Linked DNA regions of Homo sapiens. The protein of the gene in region 4 interacts with the protein of the main gene of each other region in a biochemical or structural test. Each region holds a gene or a part of one and is shown on either strand. Other genes may lie near its edges. The genes, in order: BLNK, STAT5A, SH3BP5 and BTK.

Region 1 (7,023 bases), on a different chromosome or scaffold from region 4:
ATTTTAACCAAGACTTAATTGTCAAGCATTGGCAGTGGAGAGCCCAGCTACATTAGTGTACCAATGATCATTGTGGAGGTTTAAATTTCCAGCCACTTTGTTTTATGCAAGAGCATTATTTTCTTATTTTGATAATATACTTTACACTTATTTTTAAAAATAAAAATATTTATTTGGAAAATATTAGTAGCATGATAACTCAACCTCACCAGATATTAACAGTTCATCAGGTCAGGCAATAGAACAAGTCCACATGAGCTTCTTAAAAAGAAATGGATGACCACTTCAATAGCTGACTCCATCTTCCATTTTATTACTGGATGATTCATAATCCAAAATATGAAGTTTTGGGACTTTTTCTCAAAAGGAGAAACTTTGGGAAAGTGTCTGAAGCAATGGTATTGATCTTTTTTTTCCCCCTTTATGAAACTTTAACTGCATACTTCAGTCTGGTGGAATCTTTTGTGTTATTCTGACTGTCAATAAGAACCAAAGGACTATGTTGATGATTCCTGATGATTTCAGCAACACTTCCAAAGTACTAGAGGAAGAAAACATAGATGAATTATACTTTGGCATTTGTGTTAAATTTGAGCTCCACTCCTCCCATCTTCTCTCATTCTCAAGTTAGTAAAAGTTATTACACCCCAGCTGACATTCTGCACAAAAAAATCTAGTTTAACAAAGGCTGTAACCTTCAAGGTGGCAGACCTTGGACTTTGCTGTATTAAGTACGAAGAAAAACACACTGACAGCCTCAATTAGCATAGCTACTTAGAGAGATTACTTCACTGAGTTATGATAAAATATTATAGTATATTGCTTTTTATTTACCGTTAAATGTAAAACTATCATACAACGCATTTTTCTACATTCTTTACAAAACATAGATCATCTCTTACTTTGCACAAGTCTCAGATACAAGAATTGATGTAATAAATTAACCTTAGAAATTTAGTACAAGGAAATAGTCATCTCCTAAACAAAATTATGTTTTGTTTTCTTTTTTAAACAAATAAAGAAAGCTTTATAAACCTTCATATTTCCATTTTTACTTGGTTCCTGGTAAGCTTAGAGTTAACTTAGTGCCTAATTAATAATGAAATTTCATGCTAGGCTCTCTCCATACATACTTATTTTTCCAAATTTTGATCCTTGTTGTCTATGGGTTTTAATTTAAAATTATCACAAATTTTGTTCTGAAAAATAATTAAAGTTTTGAAGGAAAGATAAAAACAAATGTAACACAGATCATGAAATTAAATTCATTGAGTATACAAAAGTGCTACAAGTTCACACTCATTAAATGTATTTAGAATCACTTTTTAAAAGTGGTGATTGTTTTACAACAGTGCCATGAGTTTAGCAGTTACTATCAATTGATTTTATTTTCTCGATTTTTTAGATAAAGACAAACATCCACAGTAAAATTTTTAAGTGTTTATTAATTGTTTGGATGACTTCCAAGTAGCTACATATTGAATAAAGTAAAATATTCAGAATATTGGCCAACATTTCCAAATGAAATACCAGTTGTCTTTTAGATAATTGGCTAGCTGAATATTCAGTCAGGGAGAGAGGTAAGAGACAGGGACTTTCAAATACCTTTAGTCTTTATTCTTTACTTCCTATTCAATCATTCAGCCATCTTGCAATTGCCAAAGAAATTCTTTCATTATAAATCCCATTAAACATTCATTCTGCTTGTTTGGCATAATATGTTGCTAAACCAAATGCAGTTGAAAGTTAAAGTTATGGACTCAAGGGCCAGAAAACGAAATAGCACAATCTCTTTGAAGTGGATTACAAGGGAAAAAGTGTGTCCTGAACCTAGGAAGCATAGGAGAGGATTGCTGTACTTATACAAACAAATATCTCATTCCGTCCCTCTAGTCCCTGAATATTTGTGAGTATTGCCTTGTTGTGGTGTTCGGGGATTGAAGTGTGTGCAGTAGGGAGTTGAGCTGAGTTGAAACATTTGAAGTAGGGAATGAAGTTGAAGAATATTTGTGATTTAATTTAAAAAAGAATTGGGCATAACATAGTTACAGCTTCCCCTCACTCTCCTTTTTTTCTGTTTTTATTAATTCAGTGTATTTGAGACAGATACATTCAGTGTATTTGTGGACAGAAAAACAACGTATTGGCCACTAAGATAAAGCAGACAGTTGTCAAAACTGTAAAATTACTCAATGTTGTATCACACAGTGCCAAAATAGCTGCATAAACAGTTAAATAGTTAATGAATTGGTTACTTTTTCTAGCCATGTACACACAAATACACACAGACTTTCAGAAAAACTCCACATGATTGACATCATGTAACCAACACTTTAATTTTCCATTCAGATGTTCAGTGTATAGGGGACATAATCTTTTTATTATAGATACTTTAAGTAAGAGTTTTAATTGACTGTCAGTACCTCCAGATGCTATTATAGTAATATATTACTTATTTTGGAATCCATAGGCTGAATATGTTGGAAGTGAGGTGAAGCTCTAGTCTATTCATTCTAAAGTGGAGATGAAGATTCATCAGGCCAAGAGGAATTCCTGTTTACCAGAGTTTCCTAGCAGGACAACGAAATCCAGAGCCCCTCAGGGAGTTCAAAATTTGTGAGAGAATTTCAGGACCTCGAAATAGGACAGCTTCTTCACCCACCCTTAAGCCTCTTATAGAAAAGCTAGACTGCTGGAGAAGCTTTAGGATGTTAAATGATAATGCGGTCTACATTTTAAAACCAAAGATTGGTCTTGATTAGTGCCCTTAGATTCAAGAGTTTTGCATTTTAAAATTATCTGAGACTTTGTTAAAAGCAAAATAAAATTCCCCAATATAAAAATTCTAGAAGAAAATGTAGGGGGGAAACACCATGACACTGGATTTGGCAATGATTTTTTGGATATGACATTAAAAGCATAGGCAAAAAAAGCAAAAATAGAGAAGACAATATCAAGCTTAAAAGCTTTTGCTCAGCAAATAACACAATCAACAGAGTGGAAAGGTAACCTATGGAGTGGGAAAAATATTTGCAAATCATTTATCTGATAAGGGGTTAATATCCAGAAACATAAAGAACTCCTAAAACTCAGCAACAACAAAAATCAAATAACCTGATTATAAAATGGAATAGACATTTCTCTGAAAATGACTTACAAGTAGCCAAAAAAGCATATGAAAAATGTTCAACATCACTAATCATCAGAGAAATGCAAATTTTTTTTTTTTTTTTTTTTGAGACGGAGTCTCGCTCTGTCGCCCAGGCTGGAGTGCAGTGGCGCGATCTCGACTCACTGCAAGCTCCGCCTCCCGGGTTCACGCCATTCTCCTGCCTCAGCCTCCTGTGTAGCTGGGACTACAGGCACGCGCCACCATGCCCGGCTAATTTTTGTATTTTTAGTAGAGACGGGGTTTCACCGTGTTAGCCAGGATGGTCTCGATCTCCTGACCTCGTGATCCGCCCGTCTCGGCCTCCCAAAGTGCTGGGATTACAGGCGTGAGCCACCGCGCCCGGCCAGAGAAATGCAAATTAAAACCACAATGAGCTGTCTATCACCTTACACCCATTTGGACGGCTACTATAAAACAACAACACAATTCAGAATATAACAAGTGCTGGTGGGGATGTGAAGAAGTTAAACCCTCGTGTGCTGTTGGTGGAACTGTAAAATGGTGCAACTGCTATGGAAAAAAGTATGGGAGGTTCTCAAAAAATTAAAAATAGAATACCCATATCATCCAGCAATCCCACTTCTGGGTATATACCCCCAAATAATTGAAAGCAGTGTCCTGGAGAGATTTGCACACCCGTGTTTATAGCAGCACTATTCACAATAGCCAAGAGGTAGAAGCAACACAAATGTCCACTGATGGATGTTAGACACACAAAATGTGGTATATAGATACAATGAGATACTATGCAGCCTTAAAAAGGAAGGAAATCCTAACACATGCTACAACATGGATGAGTCTCAAGGACATCATGCTAAGTTAAATAAGCTGGTCCTAAAGGACAAATACTGTGTGATTCCACTTGTATGAGGTATCTAAAATATTCAAATTCATAAAAATAGAACGTGGTTGCTAGGGGCTGAAGGGAGGGGGAAAAGGGAAACTGTTGTTCAGTGGGTATAGGGTTTTAGTTCTATAAGATGAACAAGTTCTGGAGATCTGTTTCACAACAATGTAAATATACTTATTACTGAGCTGTACACTTAAAATGATTAAGATGGTAAATTTTATATGTGGTTTTTTAACCACAGTTGTCTAAAAGGCAAAATAAAGAATACACATGACTTTTTCAGTTTGTTTTGCAAATGCTATTCTCCTGCCTGTAATCACTCAACCAAATCAATTCAGTTGCTTAATAATTATTTATCAAGTGTACACTGAAGCCAGTTACTGTGCTCTGATTCTGGAAATACAGAGATGAAAAGACATTGTCCTTGGCTTCATGTAGTGGGGAAGACAGACACTTCAGCAATCATGACATTTTCCAACAATTCAAATATTTTCTAGCAGGTGCTGGGTTTGGAATGGTGTACCTTTTTCTGAAGGAATCTTGAAAGTAAATATTTCTTACCTTGAATTTTGTTTATGCTATTTTCTCTGCATAGATTGTTCTTCCCATTTTTCTCCTTCTCCATCCCTCCAACTTACATTCTACCCATTTAAATTCAACCCGTAATTCAAAACCAGAATAAGTATCACTGCATTTCTAGACCATTCATGGGTTACTCCAGCTCATATTTCAGGGTTCATTTATAGGAGCAGGCTGGCTAAACTGAGATATGGTAAGCACTGAGTTTGGTCCAGATTAAAGAGGCATTAAAGTTAATGTTTGATTAATATTTAAGACCCATGTGATTTTTTTTTCTTGCTCCAGGCCCATAAGCTCATTCTGGTACAAGGGCTATAGTCTAATGTTTTAACTCAAGTTTCTGCATCTCTTCTGGATCCTTCCCTGGTAACCTACCTTGGTACTTGAGTTGAGATTTTAGGTCTTGACTTTGGAGGTCTGGAACTTGACCCTAATTCTTACAACCTTAATTCAACTTGACATTTCAACCTTGATTTATATTTGCCCCTGGACTAAAATCTTGGGTCAGACTGACCTCATTAAATAACTGAATGAAAGGACTAGCATGTACATCACATGACTTTTTCCTTTTCTGTGTTCTTATAGGATATACTGCCTAAATATAGTATTTTATCTTGTTCTCTATGACATTTATGCAAGCATTAGAACAAGTACTTTTGTATCCTTTCTCCTCATCTCTAGCATCTAATACAGTATTTGATGTCATTATACTCAATGCATAGTTATAGAATTGAATTTAAAAAGAAATCACTGACCTCTTCACCATTTTTCTTTCTGCCCAAGGCATATTGTTTTGTTGCTTCAATAAATCGCACAGGAATATTATATACTCGCTTATTAAAGAATACAACTAGTGTATATGGTTGTTTGGAATCATGGCCAGAGCTTTTCCGAATAAGAAATGATCCATCCTGTTTAATTTTTTTTAAAAAACATAATTATGGTTAGTATTACTTATATTTCTACAGGTTCAAAAAATCATTTTGTGAAGAACACCTATATTACATTCCAAAGGTAAATTATTTAGCTACATTATTTTTATTATTGATTAGCGCTTGTCTTCTTATTTTCTAAGAAAATAGTCCAGGAAAATATATACTCATAGAAAATCCTGAGTGAGATCAATGCTTGCCTTTTTTGAAAAAAAGGTAATAATTAATTAATTATTTTTAGAAACAGTCTCACTTTGTTGCCCAGGCTGGTGTGCAGTGGTGCAATCACAGTCCACTACAGCCTGGAACTCCTGAGTTCAAGCGATCCTCCCACCTCAGCCTCCTGAGTACCTGGGACTACTGGCATGCACCACCATGCCCAGCTAAATGCTAGCTTTTTAATGTGCTAAATAAGGTTTTATGTTTATAAAATTTAGAAATATGTGAAGGGACACATTAAGATCAAATCTAGAGGACTCTCTTGAACTGGGAACCATAGCCACCAGTTGTCTATGAAAAAAAATGTATCAAACAAATTCCATTCATAAGTACTATAAGAAGAAAACAGAGGTTGGGAATCAAAACTTTCATTTTATATTTGCCCCTGGACTAAAATCTTGGGTCAGACTGACCTCATTATGAAAATTCTCTCCTCAAAGAACTTTTATAAGAAAAAAAATCCCTAGCCGGGCATAGTGGCGGGCACCTGTAGTCCCAGCTACTCGGGAGGCTGAGGCAGAAGAATGGCGTGAACCCAGGAGACGGAGTTTGCAGTGAGCCAAGATCGTGCCACTGCACTCCAGCCTGGGTGACAGAGCGAGACAACATCAAAAAAAAAAAGAAAGAAAAAGAAAAAGAAAAAAAAATCCCCAAACTGTAAGACAGTAATTCAAATTTTATTAAATTTTTTAATAAAAATATTTAGAATCATAAAATAAAAAATTACGAACAAAAGATGGACAAAAAGCAGAATGAAATGCAACAAGAGTTGATCAAACTCAGGAAACAAACTGAAGAAAAAGACAAGCCTATCTCAACAAAGAACAAATTATAAGATGTCCAAGGGACGAGAGCTTCAAATGAAGATTTAAGAAATGACACTTGAAGGAAGGTGTGGAAACAACCAGGAGAGAAAATGGGATTTAATAAAATAAGTACCATAGAATCAAAGACAGTGATGGGAGAAAAAATGACAAAAAAGATCCAAAACGCATGTAAATTGAGTGCTTGCAGAAGAAAAACAAATAAGGGAACAGAACAACCCTTTAAGACTATGATCTAAGAAAACTTATTGGATATAAGAGAAAACTTAAATCTACGTATTGAAAGGGCTTCTGTCTACTTGAGAAAATTGATTTGGAATTATCAACTCAGAGATATATTCTGGTAAAATGATTAGACTTTAAAAACAAAAAGTCTGCAGAGCCACCAGACTAAAGTATCAAATTACATAGAAGGGCAAGAAAGTCACATTGGTATCAGACTTCTCA
Region 2 (8,005 bases), on a different chromosome or scaffold from region 4:
CCTCTCCTACCCACCCTGTCCAGCCCCACACCCTTCCCCTCATGCTATTCCCAGAAACAGAGGACAGTCACTATGCCTCAGGCAGGATGGCCTTGTGTTCTCTTGGTGACTTCACTGTAAAGTGACTTCCCTGAAGAGTGGTGGATAGGGGACAGCGGCAGGAACGGGCTTCACCCAAGCTCCGGCAGCTCCTTCCCTTCCCCCAGATTTGCACAGAAGTCCTCACCCTGTGCATATAAACACACACCCTCCCTAGGTCCTGATCTGTCTTCTTGGACAAGAATGGGGGTGGCATTTCTATAGGGAGGTACCAGGGCCTGGCCTCAGAGGTGGGGTATACTCTGAGCATGGGCCCATGGCCCCACTTCTAGAAGCCTTCTCCGGTGGGGGCTGGAGTGCAGGTAGGCTGTCCAAGCAGAGGCAAGGTGGGGGTGAAACAGGATGTTTAAGTGCTCCAGGGCTTCTCCCCTTTGCCGCAGGGTGAAAAGATACTTCCTAGAAAGCCTCCAGCTTTCTTGGGAAGGCCCTTCACCCCTACCCCACCTCCCCTCTGGCTCCCATGTAACAGGAACTCTCCTTGAAGAAGGGACTTGGAGCACAGGAAACAAAGGCATCTCTGTACCACCTCCCTCCACCCCCCAAGGAAGGTCAAGTCAAGGTGACCTCAATCTGTTCTCCCCAGGGTAGGGGCATGGGCAGACCTGATCGTCAAGGGCAAGGCAGAAAGGGGACCTGGGATAATTCTTTCTCTCTCCCTCTTTTTTTTTTTTTCTTTTTGTGACGGAGTTTCGCTTTTGTTGCCCAGGCTGGAGTGCAACGGCGTGATCTCAGCTAACTGCAACCTCCACCTCCCTGGTTCAAGTGATTATCCTGCCTCAGCGTACTGAGTAGCTGGGACTACAGGTGTGCACCACCACGCCCAGCTAATTTTTGGATTTTTAGTAGAGACGGGGTTTCACCATATTGGCCAGGCTGATCTCGAACTCCTGACCTCAGGTGATGCACCCGCCTCAGCCTCCCAAAGTGCTGGGACTACAGGCGTGAGCCACCATGCCCGGCCCTTTGGGATAATTCTCTTAATCCATAAACTCAAACCCACCTTCATGTAAGTGTGCACAGAGCACACTGTCCCATTCAATAGAGCAGGGGTGTAGGCTGGGCGAGAATGGAGATGCCATGCTCCGCACCGCAGAAAAATGGTGGGCTAGCCCAGCCCAGGGAGGCCTCTTCACTCCGCCGGTGTGTGCTGGGCTTGGGGAAGCTTAGAAAGGTTATACTGAGACCCTGCCCACAAGGCCCGGCAACTTGGATCCTGGTGCCATCTGTGCACTTACTGGCCAGACAGCTTTGGGCAGGTTTCTTTCATGGACTAATCAAAGGGTGTGATTCTGGCCCTGACTGCCTTCAAGGTTATTGAAAGGATCCGTTGAGTTGAAGAGCACAACCATGTCTGTACACAAATGTGCCTTGATGTAGTTCAGGATACGAATATAGTGTGCCAACTGAAGCCTAGGCTGCAGACTATTATTATTCCTAATAAAATATAGGAGGTCTTCTTTTGGAGAATATATTGCTTTTTTTTTTTTCTTTTCTTTTTTTTTGAGACAGAGTCTGACTCTGTTGCCCAGGCTGGAGTGCAGTGGTATGATCTCGGCTCACTGCAACCTCCGCCTCCTGTGTTCAAGAGATTCTTGTGCCTCAGCCTCCCGAGTAGCTGGGATTACAGGTGCGTGACACCACGCCCAGCTAATTGTTTTGTATTTTTAGTAGACACGAGGTTTCACCATGTTGGTCAGACTGGTCTCAAACTCCTGGCCTCAAGTGATCCTCCCACCTCAGCCTCCCAGAGTGCTGGGATTACAGGCGTGAGCCACTGCACCTAGCCTGGGGAATATATTTCTGTAAGATTTCTAAAATCCTTCCTCACTCCCCATCTAATACTGTGACTTGGATTTGGGGGTGAAGAGCAGTTAGGGGCAAGGAGGCCAGCCTCGGACCGCAGCTCAGTCAGACCCTTGACAGTTTCTGATCTTCCTGAACCCCCATCCCGTGGCCTCAGTTTTCTCCTCCACAGCCTGGTTCCCCAAAATCACCAGGGCACTTTGTGGTGGGAAATCACCCACACAAGGGGACAAACAAGGGGACTGAAAGCAAAAAGAAACCCCAAATTTGACATTTCTGGGTAGTTGTGTTATCTGGAGCCACGACTACAGTCACCTCTTCCCAACCCAACTCTGACACCCTTCCCTCTACTCCCTTGGGTGCCCTTTGCCCATCCTGGGAAAGTTCCATAGCTCCTCCTCCTCCCCACTGCATCTCAAAGGGAGAACAGGCCTGAAGAAATGGAGAGAAACCCAGACAGAATCAGAGAACCAGATGGAGACCTAAGGAGACAAGGGAGAGACACAGAGAGAATAAAAGCCAGAGTGGGGGCCGGGCATGGTAGCTGATGCCTGTAATTCCAGCACTTTGGGAGGCCGAGGCGGGTGGATCACCTGAGGTCGGGAGTTCGAGACCAGCCTGACCAACATGGAGAAACACCGCCTCTACTAAAAATACAAAATTAGAAATACAAAATTAGCCAGGAGTGGTGGCACATGCCTGTAATCCCAGCTACTCGGGAGGCTGAGGTAGGAGAATCGCTTGAACCTTGGAGGTGGAGGTTGCTGTGAGCCAAGATCGCGCCATTGCACTCCAGTCTGGGCAACGAGAGCGAAACTCCATCTCAAAAAAAAAAAAAAAAAAAAAACCCAGAAGGGGAAATGTGCAATGAAAGACACAGATATTCGGGGCCTTACAGTCAGAGACCAAATGAGGGATGGTCAACCAAGGGCACAGCCACTGGGCACAGGGTCAGGGTGGGAGGCACGGGAGGGCTCTGAAAACACAGCCACACACCCTTTTAGGCCCATCCTTCCCATTCTGTACTCTGGCACCTCAATGCTAGCTTTTTAGGACCTAGGACTACCCACACTAAAGCCAAGCCCGGCCCAACCAAGACAGATGTTTGGTGGGTGGGGCTGCCTGCTGGAGCAACAGGCCTCTGCAGGCCCTGGAGGAGAAGTCTAGAGAGGTGGCTGCCTGGAAGAGAGCAGGCAGGACCCCCTCTCTTAAGCAGGCACCCCCACCCCATCAGGTGCCCAGATGTCAGTGCATGGCAAGGGTGGCCCTCTGCCCTCCAGACCTGGGTGAGAGGACTTGAAAACCTGAGGAATCTGCTCCCATCAACTGACTTCCACACCTGCCTGAAGGGAACTGCTGGAGGGCACAGGTGCCAAGTGGGACCCACCCAAATGTGGCAATGGGTTTGTATCCAGCCACCGACAGGCTGCATGACGGTGGCAAAGTCACTTCCCCTCTCTGGCCTTTGTTTTTCCACTTGTAAAATCATCTTTATGGTCACTTCCAGCTGTGGCACTTGGCTTTCATTCCAGTTGACCCCCTAGCTCTGTGTCTGACCCTCCCCTGCCAAATCCATTGCTCAGAGTGGGAAAGGAGAGGAGAGGGACTATACTTCCTCCTCCCTGGGGCCCCCTGCAGAGCATCTGGGAAGCAAGGCTTCCCTACATCCTCCATGCACCCCCTTAGAGTTTTCAATTCCTTTCCTCGTGATCCTGCCAACTAAGACACTGTGACCACACAGAGAAGGTGGGGAGAACGCAGACATTTTGGCTTCTGCAGCTTTGAAGTTCTTTTTTTTTTTTTCCTCTGAAGTTAAAAGAATGAAACTGGGAGAGGTAGTAAGGGGCAAGAAAGGAGAGTGGAAATGGAGAGAAAAGGGCAGCTCTGAGAAGCAGCTGGGGAGGGAGGCAGATGAGAATGCACCCCCCCCAACAGAACATGCAGTCTTGGCCCAGCTGTGCTGTGAGTGGGCAGCTGGGCTGGCCCCTCCTCTGGTGCTGCCAACCCGCTGCCAGGCAGAGGGGAGGCCCAGAGGAGAGGGAAGCTGGGCAAAGGGGATGGAAGGCGTCCAGCCCGACCTTACCAAACCCCTTGGGCCTCGTGGGAAGGGGCCTCTTGGAGAGGGGGACTGAGGCTCTAGACAGGATATTCACTGCTGTGGCAAGGCCTGTAGAGAGTTTCGAAGTTAGGAGGACTCAAGACGGTCCCTCCCTGGACTTTTCTGAAGGTAGAACCAGCCTCATAAGTAACTAGGCTGGGTGAACGGGGGCGCTGGCTAGTTTATGGATCACAGTCGGCTGGTGAGGCCACGTGCCTACTGTGTGGCCCTGGGTGGCCCCGGGCAAGCCCCTTTCCCTCTCAGGACTTCCATTTCTTACCTGCAAAATTGTGGAGAGGGGGAGGGCTGAAACACATGACTGCCAAGATTCTTTCCAGTTCCTCCGTCAGGGTTGAGTTTAGATGGCCGGAGTAAAAGAAGGAGGGAGGTGCTGCGGTGGTGGGGGTGATCTTGGCTTCACTAGAATCCCCAGTTCTTCCCCTCTCTACAGTTTTGTCTCTGAGGTCACAAAACCTGTGGCCCCCAAGACACACATGCGCACACACGCGCGTGCACACACACACCCCACACATTTATTTTTTAATCTAGGGGCTCAAAAGATGACACGCGCCAGAGCTGGAAGGCGTCGCCAATTGGTCCACTTTTCCCTCCTCCCTTTTTGCGGATGAGAAAACTGAGGCCCAGGTTTGGGATTTCCAGAGCCCGGGATTTCCCGGCAACGCCCGACAACCACATTCCCCCGGCTATTCTGACCCGCCCCGGTTCCGGGACGCTCCCTGGGAGCCGCCGCCGAGGGCCTGCTGGGACTCCCGGGGGACCCCGCCGTCGGGGCAGCCCCCACGCCCGGCGCCGCCCGCCGGGAACGGCCGCCGCTGTTGCGCACTTGCAGGGGAGCCGGCGACTGAGGGCGAGGCAGGGAGGGAGCAAGCGGGGCTGGGAGGGCTGCTGGCGCGGGCTCGCGCGCTGTGTATGGTCTATCGCAGGCAGCTGACCTTTGAGGAGGAAATCGCTGCTCTCCGCTCCTTCCTGTAGTAACAGCCGCCGCTGCCGCCGCCGCCAGGAACCCCGGCCGGGAGCGAGAGCCGCGGGGCGCAGAGCCGGCCCGGCTGCCGGACGGTGCGGCCCCACCAGGTGGGTGACCCGGTGGCGCGTCCTCGGCGGCGCGCCGAGAGGGGACACTCTACTGCCGCCCCGGCACCTCCGGCACCCGGAGCTCGACGGCCGGGCGCAGCGCGGGGATCAGTCCCCGGCACTGCGAGGGAGTTGGCCCAGCGCAGACGAGGGACGGGGGGACGTGGGGACAGGGGTCGGGGATGAAAGGCAGAGGCCAGGGAGGGCGCCGTCCTGGCACGCCTCGGAGAGGGAGCACCTGTCGGGCTGGACCCGGGGAGGCACTAGTGCACAGATGGGGGAGCAGCCGAAGAGGGGAGCGCCCAAGTCCTCAGCCCTGTCTCCTGAACAGCCCCAGCCACGTGCCCGAAAAGCCCTAGCCGTCGAGTGGGAGCCGTCGTGGCGCTGGCCTAACTTCGGGTTGGAATATCTCCCCTTCCCAGAAACCGGGCCCGAGGTGGGCTGGGGGATCCTTGCAGCCCTCTCCAGGGGGCCTGTGGGCCTCCCGCCGTCAAGTTTCTCTTTCAGTTTCTGGCCGTCCCCCTCACTAGGGAAGCTCCGGTGGGGCGAGGGGAGAGGAAGACGGGGAGGGCACCTGCCTCTGCAGAGCACCTTCCCCTCCCCTTCAGCGGGTTCCTTGTTGGAGGGGATGGGCGGCCCTCCACTCCTCACCATCTCTGTTCCCGCACAGGAAAGCTATCTGTGGGAGGGGAGGGGCCTGGCCTGGCCGCGGTCCAGGGATAGGTAGGCATGGCAAGGCCAGGGGCAGGCCCGGTTCCTTGGCCTCTGCAGAGGAGAGCGCTTCAGCGCTCGGCTCGCCCTAGGTGAACGGCCATGGCGGGCTGGATCCAGGCCCAGCAGCTGCAGGGAGACGCGCTGCGCCAGATGCAGGTGCTGTACGGCCAGCACTTCCCCATCGAGGTCCGGCACTACTTGGCCCAGTGGATTGAGAGCCAGCCATGGTAGGCACGTCCCGCCCTGCCCCTCCTCAGAGGGTCCCTACCATCCAGGCCCTTTGGCCTCTAGTTTTACTCATGGTGGTTTGGTGTGACTCTGGTCCTGCCTGTCCTTCTTTGTGCGGAAGGGGTGGTGCCCCTGGGAAAGGGGAAGCCTGGGAGGACAGAGAATGTTTTTAGACTCGGATGTCTGTGGAGCTGCTGGGAACAAGTCTTGTGGGCCCTGGAGTGCCCTCGGTCATGAGCCTGGGGTTTCCACTTTATTCCAGCTCCCTGACCTCCTTGCCCAAGGAGGTGCCACAGTAGGTTTTTCTCTTCTGCCCTGCCCCAAGGGATGCCATTGACTTGGACAATCCCCAGGACAGAGCCCAAGCCACCCAGCTCCTGGAGGGCCTGGTGCAGGAGCTGCAGAAGAAGGCGGAGCACCAGGTGGGGGAAGATGGGTTTTTACTGAAGATCAAGCTGGGGCACTACGCCACGCAGCTCCAGGTGGGTGTAGGCTCTGGGCCACCTACGGGGAGGAAGCATCATCTTGTTCCAGCATCAGAACCCCTGGGTTTTTTCCTGGCCTGGCCACTGACTCACCATGTGACCACGAACTTATTGGGAACTTTTCTTCGATTTCCCCCACCCCCTCTTTCTAAATTCGACCTGTCGGATTTCTTTAGCATATTGCAAAGCAAGGGTGGGAGGTGTTTGTTGCCAACAGAGAGAGATGGGTGAACTGGCCTTATGGAAGCAGCAGAAGGGATGGAGGGAGACTGAGTCAGGATTCCTATGTTGGAGAAGGGAAGACCAGCAGACTCTAGAAATGAGGCCACCAGACCTCCCTCTTGGGGTCTTTTAAAGGTGAGAGAGGAGCCATCCCAGAGACAAGAGCTGGACACAAGGGCTTTGAATTGAGGGTTTAGAAATAAGATGTAGCTTCTTTACTTGAGGGGAGTGGGTATGGAGGAAGAGAGGGAGTTTTTGTGGAAGCAGGAAAGGGGTGTGGGTAGTGATGACAGTCAAGCACTTATTGGAACTCACGTATGTTTCCTAGAGAGCCCTTCAATACAGACAGCAGGGTGCCAGGGAAATACAAGTCCATCCCAGAAGAGGGGGAAAACAGGAGAAGCCTGAGGGGAAGCAATATAGGAGGCCAGGGGCAGGATGGTGGGAAGTACCTTGACCTTGGCATCAGATGCCCTGAGTCTGGAGTCATCTGCTCTCTCACTTGGTTGCGTCTGGACGAGTACATAATGTCTGAGCATCAGTTTTCTCATCTGTGAAATGGGGATCATAGTTTCTGCTTATGTCCTAGAGTTTCCATGCTGTTAGTGCCTTGATCCCCCACCACTTTTTGGCACCAGGGACCGGTTTCATGGAAGACAATTTTTCCATGGACCGGGATTGGGCAGGGAGGTGGTTTCTGGATGATTCAAGAGCATCACGTTTATTGTGCACTTTATTTCTATTGTTATTACATTGTGCTATGCAATGAAATAATTATAGAACTCACCACAATGTAGGATCAGTGGGAGCCCTGAGCTTGTTTTCCTGCAACTAGACAGTCCCATCTGGGGGTGATGGGAGACAGTGACAGATCACCAGGCATTAGATTCTCTTAAGAAGTGCATAACCTAGATCCCTCGCATGTGCAGTTCACAATAGGGTTAGCATTCCTATGGGAATCCAGTGCCATTGCTGATCTGACAGGAAGCAGAGTTCAGGCTGTAATGCGAGCAATAGGCAGCAGCTGTAAATACAGATGAAGCGTCACTCACTTGCTCACCGCCGCTCACCTCCTGCTGTGTGGTCCAGTTCCTAACAGACCACCGACCTGTACCAGTCCATGGCCCAGGGGTTTGGGACCCCTGTGTTACAGTCAAAAGATACGGTAGATTGGAAGTGCTTCATAAGACTGGGTATGATGGCTCACACCTGTAATCACAGCACTTTGGGAGGCCGAGGCGGGTGGATCACCTGAGGTCGGGAG
Region 3 (7,023 bases), on a different chromosome or scaffold from region 4:
GGGTCCTATGCTGCCCAAGCTCCCCAGCTGGAGAGCAGCAGGGACCCCAGGCCCTGTGCCCCAAGGAAGGCTGCTCAACTACAAGGTTGGCAGCTCTGCCACAAGCTACTTGTATTTTCCAGAGTCCTCATCAACCCCAGCACTAAGCAGAAAACTGATCCTTTGTCCCTGTCTGTGCCACTGCATGTGGCCTAACAGAGCACACCAGGGCTGCTGCCACCTCCTAGTATATCGGCTTCAGCCATGGCTCCAAGTGTGGCTGCCTGATGTCACCACAGGAAGTGTGAGGGGCCGCATAGATAATCTTGGGCACGTTACGTGGGAACCCCAGTGTCCCGCTGTGCCTGGAGGGATCGTGTAGTCCAAGCCACTGCCATTTCTTCAAGACAGCCCTGGGCCTTTCTGAGCACGGAATTTTCTTTTATTAGACCCTTAAGTAATACTTTGGAAGAAGAGGGTGAGATGAAGCTCCCTTGTTCTACAGAAACAAGCATCCTAGAGTACCCAGAAGGCAGACAAGGGAGGAGACATTCTCTAGCCCTTTGATCACACAGCTTTCAGCTGGCTGAGCATGCCAGGCCCGTGAGGCTCTAGGAGGGGTCAACATGAGCACCACTGGGGGAAACGCTAAGTCCAGAGAGTTCCCAGTTACTCGACACTGTTTCAAAGCCAACCATGCAAGTGTGTGTCCTGGAGAAAGAATTATGTTCTGCATCATCCATTACATTCGGAGAGCCTGCTCTGCACGCTGAAATTCTGAGTGGCACAGGGACGTGATGGGGGAAAGCTTTGCCACAGGCTTTTGTCTCTTGCTGGTGTCTGTTTTTAACTCATCTGTTCAATGAGGGGCATTTCCAGCCTATGCAACTGTGAAGGGATCTGGGAAGAGGAATATCAGCTCAAAGGTGGAAATCCTGGCATGTGACCCGGAACACCTGCCAATCTGCAGAGGTTGCCCCCAAGCCCAAGAAAACCAAATGGGCCCTTCCCTTCAGTGGCCACAGAGAAGGCACATATCAGCTGGCCCTCCCAGGGCCCTATGAAGCCCTCATGACCTCAGGAGTACAGGGCCATCTTGTATAGCCCCACAGGTCTTGCACTGCACAACTCCAAAAAGCGCTATTCCCAAAGTCTGTGGTATGAACGGTGCCCTGAGTTATACAGTGTGGAGGTCTGGGGATGCCACTCCTTGGGAGGCCACCCACTATCCACTGGGGCCCTGGGACTTAAAAATGAGAGATACACAAAGCAGAAGCATGGTTTGTTTATCTTTAAACAACAGATTAAATGACTTCTGAAATGCTTGCTTATAGGCTGACATGGGTCTCCAGCTGGGGTGGAAGAAGGGCAAAAAGGAAAAGTGGCCCTTCAGCTAATTTCTTGGAAGAAGCTACCTTACATTTTGTCCTTTTCATATCTATCGGGCTTTGGCTTGTGAACTTCCAAGATTTCCAGCCACCCCTTCCATTTTTCTCGAGATGACCCAGAAAAGTTGTTTCTAGCCCACGTCTAGCTCTGTGAGCATCACGCCCACTAGGGGGCAGGAGGCGCAAGGCCACACAAAGCCAAGCTCAGCCGAGAGTCTCAGGCTGCAGGGAGAGGTGCGTAAAGTCAACGCGGATTTGACTCTTGAAGTCATTTGTGTGCCAAGCTTTCTATTTAAGGAAGCACAAGGCCATCTTTAATTATCAGATCCCCCAGGACTTGAGCCACTGTGGCAGGTGACATTTAAAAGGGAAATCCTATTGGCATTAACCTGCTGACTTTTCTAATCCAGTCCCCCAGACGGCTTTCTCAAGGAGTCACCAAGACCTCTTGCAACCCCGTACCCGCGCCGTCCAGGGTCTTATTGGAGCTGCTGAAGCCACAGGTCAGCTCACCCACCCACCCTGCAGCAAACCAGCCCTACACTCGTTTTCCAGGCGCTGGGAATCTAGACAGAGAATGCAGAGGGGCACAATGGACCCAGGCTGGTGTGGGGGGATACCAGGAACATGAGCCTGGGCAGCCCAGGAGCCAAGCCTGGAAGGGGGAAGAGGTATCCAGGAACATTCTGCGTGACTTCTAAGAAACCCGATAGAGTTAGGCAGGGGTAACCAAGTACTGCTGAGCCAAGAACTGTCCCTAGCTGCTATGGTCTGAACATTTGTGTCCTCCCAAAATTCTTATGTTGAAACTGATCCCCAGTGTGAGGGTATCTGGAGATAGGGCCTTTGGGAAGTGATGAGGTAATGAGGGTAGAACCATCATGAATGAGATTAGTGACCTTATAAGCTCATGTACCCCTTCCACCGTGTTAGGACATGGAAAAGATGGTCATCTGTGAACCAAGAAACAGGCCCTCATGAGACACTGAATCTACCAATGTCCTACCTACCAATGCACTTCTCATCCTCCAGAGCTGTGAAAAATAAATTTCTATTGTTTACCAACTACCCTGTTTATGGTATTTTGTTTAGTATTTTGTCTTGGCCTGTACAGACTAAGGCACACCATTTCTGGCTCTGAGTAACGCAGTCAGAGAGGTGGTCATGAGAGCCAGTAAAGAACCCAATATAATGACATAAAACCCAGCAAGCCAAGCTGTGAGTAAGGATCACACACAGTCCGCTTCCTCTGTGCCTGTCAACTCCCTGAATCCCAGCCCAGAAGGCCTGTCGTAAGTACACACCTGATTCTGGTCTAATCCGCCATGACCCCTGCCTTCCTCCGACAGCACATACCCGAAGTGCAGCCCCCATTTAGGGCTGTTCATCAAGGTCTCCCCATCACAGATTCGAAACCCAGCCAGTATTGCTGGGGTTCCATGGGAGCAAACCCTGGAAAACCTCGTCCCTCTGGAAGCCTGAGTCCAGTCAAGACCCCCTGGGGATGACCCAAACCAGACAAACCTCAAGCAACATAAGGGAAGGAGCAGCTCTCGCTGTCACGGAGAGACACTGTGACTCATTCTGGAGCACTGGCTTCGTACCAAGCGCAGCCAAGAGATCATACGGAGATGACAACCTGTGATTTTCAGGGTGTTTTCAGGCAACATGCCTGGGAGTCGAGTCTGTTACCTCCGCTCAGGGGAAGCCAGCGCGCATGCACGCGCACACCCCCACAGCACACCCGGCCATGACTCATACCCTCTGAGTGGCGTGATTCAGCATCTCCTGCCAGGCGGAGTCGAACTGCCGCTTGTCATCCTCCAGCAGCCGCTGCTCGGCCAGGGAGATGGTCTCCTTGGCGGCACGGAGCACCTCTGTGGCCCTCTGGAAGTCCTGCGTGGCTTTCTGAGCTTCCAGCTGAGCCTGTGTGAGAAAGAATCCTCATGAGGCCTCAGAAAATGGCAGGGGCTCCCCATGGTCCATTTTACCTTTCAAAAAATAAGCATCCCAAGGACCAGGACAAGCTCATCTCTGCCTCTTCACTCCTGGCACCCACAGGTCCTCATAGATGCCAGACAGGGCAATGGACCCCTGATGGGGGAGTGAGCAACAAATCAGTGAGCGAACAATTTCCACAGTTCTGGGCCCAATGGATGAGATAAACACATCAGCCCTTGGCCAGAACCTGACATGGCAAACCAGCCCATCGTGGGACAGGTACAGCCAACCCCACAGCCTTTCTCAGAAGCTCTGCCTCACTCGAGGCCTGTCACCTTCCCTGCCCAGATCTGTGGCTCAATTCATGGCAAGTCAGAACCAGGAAGGCCCCCAGAGATCATGGTCCAAAGACTTCACTCTATAGAAGGGGGACCTTAGCTGAGAGGACACAGCCTTTCCTGAGATCACACAGCTGACTAGATGCAGAGCTGTGCCAGACTCCAGCCAGTATGAGTTCCAGCCCAGCACTGTCACTCTGCCAGACAGTCTCCCACTCAACTCACACCCACTGACACCAGCGACAGGCCAAGTATGGCACCAGGCAGGCAAAGAGAAGGACCTAATTAATTAACACAACACGGTCCCTGCTTTCAAGGAGCATCAGGTGGGAGAACCAATACCAACTGTAGCTGACCACCACGTCTAGAGCTGCCCCCACTACATGTGTCTACTGATTGTTCAAAATGTGATTAATCCCAGCCAGGTGCAGTGGCTCACACCTGTAATCCCAGCACTATGGGAGGCAGGCGGATCACTTGAGGTCAGGAATTAAAGACCAGCCTGGTCAACATGGTGAAACCCCATCTCTACTAAAAACACAAAAATTAGCCAGGCATGGTGGTGGGCACCTATAATCCCAGCTACTTGGGAGGCTGAGGCAGAAGAATCACTTGAACTCAAGAGGCAGAGGCTGCAGTGAGCCGAGATTGCACCACTGCACTCCAGCCTGGGTGACAGAGTGAGACTCCATCTCAAAAAAAAAAAAAAAAAGTGATTAATCCCAATTGAATGTAAGACATCCCTAATCTTAAAGACTTAGTACAAAAAAAAAAGAATGTTAAATATCTCAATAATTTTTATTATATGATGAAATAATATTTTGGATATATTAAATTAAATTAAATATATTATTAAAATTAATTTCAGCTGGGTGCAATGGATCCCACCTCTATTCCAGCACTTTGGGGGGCCAAGGCAGGAGGACCACTTGAGGCCAGGTATTCAAGACCAGCCTGGGAAACATAGCAAGACCCTACTTCTGGAAAAAATTAAAAAATTATCCGAGCATGGTGGCACATGGCTGTATTCCCCACTCCTTGGGAGCTTGAGGCAGGAGACCGCTTGAGGTTACAGTGAAATACAATTATGCCGCTGCACTCCAACCTGGGTAACACAATGAGCCCCTGCTTCTTAAATAAATAAAATTTAAAGATTAAATTCACAGAGGCTGGGCACGGTGGCTCAAACCTGTAATCCCAGCACTTTGGGAGGCTGAGGCAGGTGGATCACAAGGTCAGGAGTTTGAGACCAGTCTGGCCAACATGGCGAAACCCTATCTCTACTAAAAATACAAAAATTAGCCGGGTGTGGTGGCATACGCCTGTAGTCCCAGCTACTCGGAAGGTTGAGGCAGAAGAATCGTTTGAACCTGGGAGGTGGAGGTTGCAGTGAGCCGAGATCACGCCATTGCACTCCAGCCTGGATGACAAGAGCGAAATTCTGTCTCAAAAAAAAAAAAAATTAATTTCACCATTTCATCTCTCCCCATCTTTCCTTTTTTACTGTGACCACAGGGAAACTTACAATTATACAGGCGATTCCAATTCTATTTCTTGTGGACAGTAGATACCTTTACCCCAAGATGGGCCATGTGATGGCAGCTGTGTGACTGCATGAGAAATCAGCACTGAAACATCACAGTCACCACTCTACAGGCTCACCTTGAATTCCCCAGCAGGGTAGAAGCCACAAACCCGCCTCTGCAGCGTCCCACCACCCTCCCTCGTCCCACCACCCTCCCTCGGTTAACCACATCCCCAAGTCAGTTACATAAGCCCTGGTGGGACGTCCCTAAGGCAGCCCCTGGGACTCGGGAAGAGGGGAACTACAGGGACCCCACCCTTCCCCAAGCAATTCTTGCATGACTTCGAGGAAGTCTTCAGAAACCACAGGCTGAGGACGCTTTGTGAAGAAGGTTAAAGAAGGGGGAACAAAAAAATCAGAGACTCAGAGCACGCCAGCCCCCAAGGCAAAGAACAGCTTTTCCCGAGCACTCTGTGATTGTGTACTGCATACCAGACCCAGACCCAGCCCTCCAGGCGACGATGACAATCAGATGGAGACCCGAACCAAGCATGGAGTGGACACTCAGAAGTCTGTAATACAACGCTGTATGTGACAGTGCCACAGCAGGAAGGGAGGAATGGCAGGGAATGTGAAGGAGAAATTATTTCCAGTACAAAGAACCAAGGAAGGCCTCTTAAAGGAGGAGGATCCCGAACTCAGGACTAAGGACACAAATGATTTGAAAACATGGGCTGATGAGGTGGGGGACAGAAGGAAGGATTTGAGACTCTAAAGACATTACAAAACAGAGTGCCTGTAGGATAAAGACATTACAAAACAGAGTGCCTGTAGGATAAAGACATTACAAAACAGAGTGCCCGTAGGATAAAGACATATTACAAAACAGAGTGCCTGTAGGATAAAGACATTACAAAACAGAGTGCCTGTAGGATAAAGACATTACAAAACAGAGTGCCTGTAGGAGATTCGATGATACCTCAGATCAAATTTTTAAAAAGGACTCCAGTGAAGACCTTGAATGAATGCCAGGCTAAACCTTCAACCAAAGTGGCCCAGGGACCTGCCCCTGCTGTGGACTCACCATGTGGCCCTGGGACCAGTCGCCCACTTCCACTCAGGTGTGCCTCAGCTACACAAGGAGAACAAGGATGCCCACCCTCCCTAGAGCTGACCAACTCACCCCCCCAACCCCTGCCCCACCTCGTGCCTCCAGGCCCATTAGTGGTTCTTAGTTCTTTCATGTGAGGACAGCCCTGCAGGGCCTCCGCAGGCCAAGCTGCTGGGAACGAGAGGAAGCAGAGGGAACCTGTCACCTTAAAAGCCACTCCACCCCCTACCCATAGGTGGCCTCTCCTACCTATATGCTTCACACCAACTCCAGGAGACAGGATGAATCCCACAGGATCCTAAAATGGGATTTGTATTTGCCTTTTTAGGAATTTTTTAGTATTTCAATTCAGCAACATTTAAGGGTAAACTCTCTTCTCCCAGTTCTCTCTGCTTCAGTTATGAATCCCTTATTTCTTCAAGCAAGAAAAGATGCTCTTTTGACGGCCTTCTGAAAGGTGGCTGCTGTACCACGGGCCCAGCACCTCTTCACACCCTCTGCCATGTATCTGATGAGTTCCAAATAAGAGAACCAGATCTCTACAAAGGAAAAGAGGAAGCCCATGTGAAGCTGCCTTTGAGAAGAACATGTGCTGTCAAATTCCGGACAAGCGTCTGAAGTTTCTGCGAGATTCCTTCTCCTGTACAGTGACATAGGATACATGTTTGCCTTGCCATATCACAGGTACAACTAATGTGAGGCCTCATTCCACATTTAACCCACAGAAACCAGATGCCATCT
Region 4 (7,023 bases):
TGGGAAATATTTATCCACAACAAAGAGATGTACAGTGCTTTCGTATACAGTGATTTACAGTTTTCCATGTGCTTTTACATGTATTATTACTTCATTTGATCCTTACAACAACCCCAGAGGTAGATGTGGCATGAATTACCATTATTCTCCTTTGAGAAGAAGAAACTGAGCATCAAAGAAGCTTGTTGGCCTTCTTGCCAGAAATCACCCAGTTTGTAAATGGTAAAAGAGGGCTTGAAACCAGGTTCTCTGACTCTGACTTCAAGCACTCTCATACATCATCTATTTAATTTTTTGGAGCTAGGTATTTTATACTTAGGATTCTAAATATTGCATAACCATTGAATGCCACACCACCCTTGTATTCAGTGCAAAAAATGGGACTTTTCTTAATAAATAGAGAAATGGAGGTGCCTAAAATTACAAAATTGCACTAGAGAGATAGTGATAGAACTGGGAAACTCTTAGTCTAATATTTTATCTTTTATTCATATGATGGAATACTAAGCTCAATTGTATTACTAATATTGAAACAAAATACAAACTTTCCTTTGTTTCTTTGTTATTTGTCTTTCTTTCCTCCCTCATCCCCTTCCTTCTTTCCTTGCTTCCTTCCTTCCTGTCTCCCTCCTCCCCTCCCTCTCTCTTTCTTTTCTCCCCTTCTATCCATTTTTTTCTTCTTTTCTCTCTACGTTTCTCCTTTCTCTTTCTTTCTCGTTTCTCTCTTCCTTCTTTCCTTTTCCTCCCGTCTATCTCCTCTTCCTTCCTTTCCTTCTTTCTTTGGAAACATTTATTTTCCAAATAATTCTCACCGTTTTTGAGCTGGTGAATCCACCGCTTCCTTAGTTCTTCAGTTGGGGAGAAGACGTAGAGAGGCCCTTCATCATATACAACCTGGGTCGATGAAAACACAGACTTCAGCAGTTAGGATTCAGAAAAAAGGAGAAAGACCTTGAAAGTACTAATCTTAGGGGACAATTTGTATATTTATTGTAGAAAACAAAGAAAGGCAGAATCTTCAGTCAGCAATGGTGTTCAGGTTATGTGAACTATCTGAAGGATTCCTGAACTCTTCATATCTAGGAATGTAGCGTTTAAAAGCTCTTAGAATTTTTCATACTCTTAGGTCCTCCTGACTTGTGCTTCAATTCATGCATAAACTTATTTTATAAGGTCTCCGTCTGCCCTTGCTGGAGATAACATTTTTGTTTATCCAACAAAGGGTATTTTATCTTATTATTAAATTCTGACTTTGTATAGAAGAGAAATGAAGTGATAATCTATATAAATTAAGTCTTGATTAGTACATATGGGTTATTCACTTGGATAATATGGAGTAAAATTTTAATTCATGGCTAATTACCTCCACCTCCACTACCTAGTGGCCTCCCCTCACCAATATTAGCCAAAATAAATCAAATTTGGAACTACAAACCTACTTCAAAAAGGGTAAGGTATATAATAAGCAATATCATCAAGTCAAATAGTATTTTTTTAACCATGTACAAGGCATCATGCTAGGTGTTACGAAGATGCATGAAATATATAAGATGTGGTTCCAACCCTCACAGAGTTTATAGACATCACATAATAAATTCTGAAGTCAAATATAAATTAATTTAAAATTATCTGCTGTTCAGCATTGTTCACTAGTGCAGCCAAACAATGTCATCTTGTTGAAAGGCATTGGTAGTAAAAACTGTGTCTGAAATACCCCTCTTTCAAAGGTTTCGTAAATTTGATATAGTCAGGGACACGAACAAGATCCTTTTACATTTTTCTTTTTGCTTGTTAGTCTTGCTGTGCTCATAAATCCATGACAGAAAGCCCCCTCCCCTGAGACTTTCCACTTCCTTTTCTGGCTTTCACTGTTGCAGAGGCTGCTATATTCACGACATGTGGCCTACAGAGTTCTCAGGATGTAAGCAAGCCAAACTGAAGACCAAATTTGTAGTTCTTGCTCTCCTAAACAGATGCATATGTGGCACTTCAGCTCTTCCAGATTACAACAGAATTTAGGTTTATGCATAAGTCTAATAAGTCTTCCTCATACTGAACTTCCTAATACTACTCCCCTTTTCTATCTTTTCAACCCACATGACCACTATTAGACAGATAGTCAGAACCAGAAGGAAGTGAAATGCTCACTCAACAAGCAGAGCATCTTTCTCAATGCAGTTATCATAGACAAGACACACTATGATAGAATTGGTGCTGCTATGTATTCTTTTTGAGGTATAGAGACTAAAAGAAACTATGTTAGATTAGGTAAATAGAAAAGCAAACATTCTTAGCCCATGCCAGTCTCATTTCTTGGTTCAGCATCCTTGTCCACCTCAACTTCTATTCACTGGGTCCTCGTAGCCTTCCCTCTGCCCTGCACCCCACCACCCCTTCTAATTGTGTTACAGGGGCCTTTCGAGATTTGGTGAGAGAAAATAACTCACCTGGAAGGGATAAGGGAACCTTTCAATGATTGAAATTTGCTCCATTTCACTGGACTCTTCACCTCTTCTCTGTAATGAAATAAGAAAAAATGGTTATTGGTTGATGCATTGCTCTTTTCTGAATTTCCTTAGGTACTAGAAGCCTTTTGCTGTGGCTTCAGAAGTTTCTCCTGCACAGACAAGGCTGATTCTTAGTGATTACTTTCTATAGGCCAATAGGGACACATATCCAATACGACCCAACACATACCCAGTCAAGAGAGACTCAGGTATTTCAAATCACTGGGAAAATGGAGGTTTCTAAAAAATTGTTGTTGGGACAAATATTTAACCACTAACGTTGTGGGGAGGAGAGGAGTTAGGTAGCTATGCTACACCATACACCAAAGAAAATTCCAGATGGATTCAAGAGCTTAATATAAAAAATAAAACTATGAATGACTGAGAGTAAATATAAGCAATTATTTATATAATCCTGTGGGAGGCAAGCTTTTTCTAATATAAGGATGAAACTTAGAACTATTAAGAAAAACCTGAACTAATTTGATGACATAGACTTTAAATCCCTATATGGCAAAAAGCATCATAAACAAAATTGAAAGATAAAGGATAAACTGAAAAACATTTTCAACATACTTTACAGTTAAAGGATAAATGTTCTTATATCAAGATCTCTTTAAAAGTATTAGAAATGAGGTAAACATCTCAATGTAAAAAATGGACCAAAAATTAATGGGCAATTCACAAATAAAATATAAATGAGCAGTAGACCAACTTTATGAGTAAAAGAAATTGCAAAATAAGTTAGCAATAAAATGCTATTTTTTTTTTTTGAGACGGAGTCTTGCTCTGTCGTCCAGCCTGGATGTGCAGTGGTGCGATCTCGGCTCACTGCAACCTCCGCCTCCTGGGTTCAAGGGAGTCTCCTGCCTCAGCCTCCCGAGTAGCTGGGATTACAGGCTCGCGCCACCATGCCCAGCTAATTTTTGTATTTTTAGTAGAGACGGGGTTTCACCATGTTGGTCAGGCTGGTCTCGAACTCCTGCTCATGATCCGCCTGCCTTGGCCTCCCAAAGTGCTGGGATTACAGGCGTGAGCCACCACGCCCCACCTGAAATGCTATTTTTCTTGGCTGTCAAATTAACTAATATTTAAAATATCTAGTGTTGGGCTGGGCACAGTGGCTCACGCCTGTAATCCCAGCACTTTGGGAGGCCGAGGTGGGAGGATCACTTGAGGTCAGGAGTTTGAGATCAGCCTGACCAATCTGGTGAAACCCCATCTCTACTAAAAATACAAAAATTAGCAGGGTGTGGTGGTGGGCGCCTGTAGTCCCAGCTACTCAGGAGGCTGGGGCAGGAGAATCACTTGAACCGGAGGCAGAGGTTACAGTGAGCGGAGATCGCACCACTGCACTCCAGCCTGGGCGACACAGCGAGACTCCATCTCAGAAAATAATAATAATAATAAAAATAACAAAATATCTAGTGTTGGAAAAAATGTACAGAAACAGGCACTCTCATACATAGCTTGTAGGTGTGTATGAAATTCAATTCCACTTCTAGAAAATGAAATAAAAAGATAAAAATAACCAAAGTGCACAGATTTTCTTAAAGAGAAGAACAAAATTTTACTTCTAGGAAATTATCATAAGGAAAAGAATAAAAAAAGTACAGAAAGATGTATGCAAGATTGTTCCTCTCAACATGGTTTATACTATCAAGTACTTGTAGACAAACCGAATGTGTAATAATGGGAGATTAAACAAATTACAATACATCCATAATAGGGAATACCATACAGTCATTAAAATCATGTTATTAAAGAATATCTATTGTCATGGGGAAAAGTTTCCCACATATCGTTACATTGAAAAAGTACGTTACAAAGCAAGATGTGTACTATGAGTCTATGTTTTAAATATATGACATATATATAAGTGTATGCGTATGTGTTCTCAGTGAAGAAAAACATCTGTAAGTCTATGTACACCAATATGTTGATAGTTGTTTTAACTGGGTAACAGGATTATGCATCATTTTAATCTTTTTGTATTTTTTATATATTCCAGAGTTTCTGTAATAAATACGCAATTCTCCTGTGATCAAGAAAATACTGAAAATGGTCAGACCCAGTGGGTGGCTCACGCCTGTAATCTTTGCACTTTGGGAGGCCGAGACAGGCGGATCACTTGAGGCCAGGAGTTCAAGACCAGCCTGGCCAACATGGTGAAACCCCGTCTCTACTAAAAAAATACGAAAAATTAGCCAGGCATGGTGGTGCACACCTGTAATCCCAGCTACTTGGGAGGCTGAGGCATGAGAATTGCTTGAACCCGGGAGGTGAAGGTTGCAGTGAGCCAAGATGGCACCAGTGCATTCCAGCCTGGGCAACAGAGCGAGACTCTGTCTAAAAAAAGAAAAAAAAAAGAAAAAAAGAAAATACTGAAATTGATATATATTTTTTAAAAGTGAACTCAAAAATCAGTAGGTTTTATGTCTCTCGCTCCGGAAAGTGAGAAGAGAATAAATAGTAAGGTATTAAAGGATATCATGTGACTCAGAGCCCTAGGATTATGACATTCAGACTTACTTAAGCCTCTAAATCTGATCCTGAGAGAACTGAGGGAATAAAATCAATGATCTCTGACCAGTTTGAAAACTAGATATAGCATCATTTAAAAGTTTGTGTTAACAAATTTTCCATGTTTAGTGAGATGTTCTGAATATGAAGGAAAGAAGCTAAGATTCTTTATAACCAATATGGTAGAGTGAAGAATTTTTAAAGGAAACTTGACCGTGTTCCACGTTGCACAGCATCACCAGTCTATTTACAGAGAATTTAAATGTTGCAAATTTCTTCAAATCTGCTGTTCCCCATCTCAGACATTGGTCTCTTCTTACCGGAATCTGTCTTTCTGGAGGAGGATTTTTTTCAGGAACCACTGTTTCAACACAAGTGATCTTCTCAACATCTATTGAACCCTTCTTACTGCCTCTTCTCTGAGAAGTAGAATGAGGAAGAAAATGGAGAAAGATTAAGAGGGATTAAGCAACCAGATGATTAGATTTTGTTATCTAATCATTCAACAAAGTGAGGTGGCACCAGGACCTGTCATGTGGGGGAAGAAAAAAAAATCCTTCCAGATCTATAAATCTATGACTACCAAATGGAGGGCAAATACCATGGAAGAGTGAATGACTGTATGTACCTTCCTCATAGGAAGTAAGGAAGCAATTTCCAACTCTTCGATTTCATTTTCAACAATCATTTAATGAGTGCTCATCAATTCCAAGATTCCATGGTAATATTTTCCTTGTGGCTTCTTAGGACCTTTGACTTTCCGGCTTTAGCTAGTTATAGGCTAGGAAATATTTTGCTGAATTTGAAAGAACTTAGGTCCATTCTACTCCCCTCCTCCTACCAACGAAAATTTACCTCTTCCCCAAGAAAGATCTAAGGCCAAGTCCTTGATATCTTGAAACTCAGTTTTCATAGTCGAGAAACTTACCCCACGTTCAAAGTCATACTCATAGTAGGAGAGTTTGTGCACGGTCAAGAGAAACAGGCGCTTCTTGAAGTTTAGAGGTGATGTTTTCTTTTTCTGTTGGGATCGCTTCAGAAAGATGCTCTCCAGAATCACTGCGGCCATAGCTTCTTCTTTCTGGAGTTCACCTGTGTGCTGTTGATAATGAAAGTTCCTGAGGACCCAGGACATTAATCCTCATCCCTCTTGGTTCCCCCTCAGCCTAGCTACCTAGTTTCAAATGGAACAAAAATGTGCACAGCTCACAAAATAATTTCTTCCTACCAACCTCCTCCCACAGCCCCCAGCTCTGTCAGGTTTCAGGTATAATGGATGCACACTGAATTGGGGGGGGATTGGTTCGATGTTGTGAGCTCATATAAACTGAGTTCTTGTATAAGGCAATGGAATGCTCTAGATGTTAAATGGCACGCACCTGTGTGCTTGGTAAGGTGTAGAGGTAGCTTTACACTATTCACCTTTATATGATATGTGTAGAATCTGTGAAAAGCAAAAGTATCTGTGCAGCTGTTGATCTTGATATACCCAGAAGGGATAATGCAGGTGCCAGAACTCCACTGAGGCAGATATTGGACTTTCAGTTCCCAATTTCCTAGACGGTGAATATAATTTTTCAAACATTGTCCCACTGGGGTCTGTAACCAAGGGAACTAATAAGGATATGGAGGCTGCACCTGCAGTTCTGGACACACACTAACTGCTGCCCAACTGATTTTGCCCACACCCACTGACTGAGCTACAAAGGATAGAAGATTTGTTCTAAAGTTGAAAACATAATTTTTTTTGGTGGGTTTTGGTGGGGGGGGGGTAGTTGTTGTTTTCTGACCTTTTCCCCATTTAGCTTAAATTAGTTCTTTTAGACAGCATCATGCAAAAGTGATGCAACTGTCTTACTGATATAGATGCCACCTCTGTTCATTTATGAAACACAACTTATTTAGCCTCCCCAAACCTACAATACTCCAGAAGGATTCAATTTAGGTAACTGAAACACAGAAAGACAAATAAAGTTCCCAAAGTCACCACTGG

Evidence for each region.
Region 1: the proteins of BTK (region 4) and BLNK interact in a biophysical measurement, tested with the Homo sapiens proteins (one study listed by IntAct).
Region 2: the proteins of BTK (region 4) and STAT5A form a complex in vitro, tested with the Homo sapiens proteins (one study listed by BioGRID).
Region 3: the proteins of BTK (region 4) and SH3BP5 form a complex in vitro, tested with the Homo sapiens proteins (2 studies listed by BioGRID, with this or other methods).

What each region holds. Positions count from the first base shown.
Region 1 is NC_000010.11:96,191,552-96,198,574, forward strand, and holds part of BLNK (B-cell linker protein), read right to left. Parts: intron 5,513-7,023; coding exon 5,357-5,512; intron 542-5,356; coding exon 422-541; 3' UTR 1-421. UniProt on the Homo sapiens protein: Functions as a central linker protein, downstream of the B-cell receptor (BCR), bridging the SYK kinase to a multitude of signaling pathways and regulating biological outcomes of B-cell function and development.
Region 2 is NC_000017.11:42,283,507-42,291,511, forward strand, and holds the start of STAT5A (signal transducer and activator of transcription 5A), read left to right. Parts: upstream 1-4,991; 5' UTR 4,992-5,092; intron 5,093-5,423; exon of another isoform or gene 5,424-5,895; 5' UTR 5,896-5,905; coding exon 5,906-6,033; intron 6,034-6,359; coding exon 6,360-6,516; intron 6,517-8,005. UniProt on the Homo sapiens protein: Carries out a dual function: signal transduction and activation of transcription. Mediates cellular responses to the cytokine KITLG/SCF and other growth factors. Mediates cellular responses to ERBB4.
Region 3 is NC_000003.12:15,266,585-15,273,607, forward strand, and holds part of SH3BP5 (SH3 domain-binding protein 5), read right to left. Parts: intron 6,796-7,023; exon of another isoform or gene 6,532-6,795; intron 5,277-6,531; exon of another isoform or gene 5,172-5,276; intron 3,294-5,171; coding exon 3,129-3,293; intron 1-3,128. UniProt on the Homo sapiens protein: Functions as a guanine nucleotide exchange factor (GEF) with specificity for RAB11A and RAB25. Inhibits the auto- and transphosphorylation activity of BTK. Plays a negative regulatory role in BTK-related cytoplasmic signaling in B-cells.
Region 4 is NC_000023.11:101,369,186-101,376,208, forward strand, and holds part of BTK (tyrosine-protein kinase BTK), read right to left. Parts: intron 6,130-7,023; coding exon of another isoform or gene 6,100-6,129; coding exon 5,959-6,099; intron 5,450-5,958; coding exon 5,351-5,449; intron 2,517-5,350; coding exon 2,448-2,516; intron 895-2,447; coding exon 813-894; intron 1-812. UniProt on the Homo sapiens protein: Non-receptor tyrosine kinase indispensable for B lymphocyte development, differentiation and signaling. Binding of antigen to the B-cell antigen receptor (BCR) triggers signaling that ultimately leads to B-cell activation.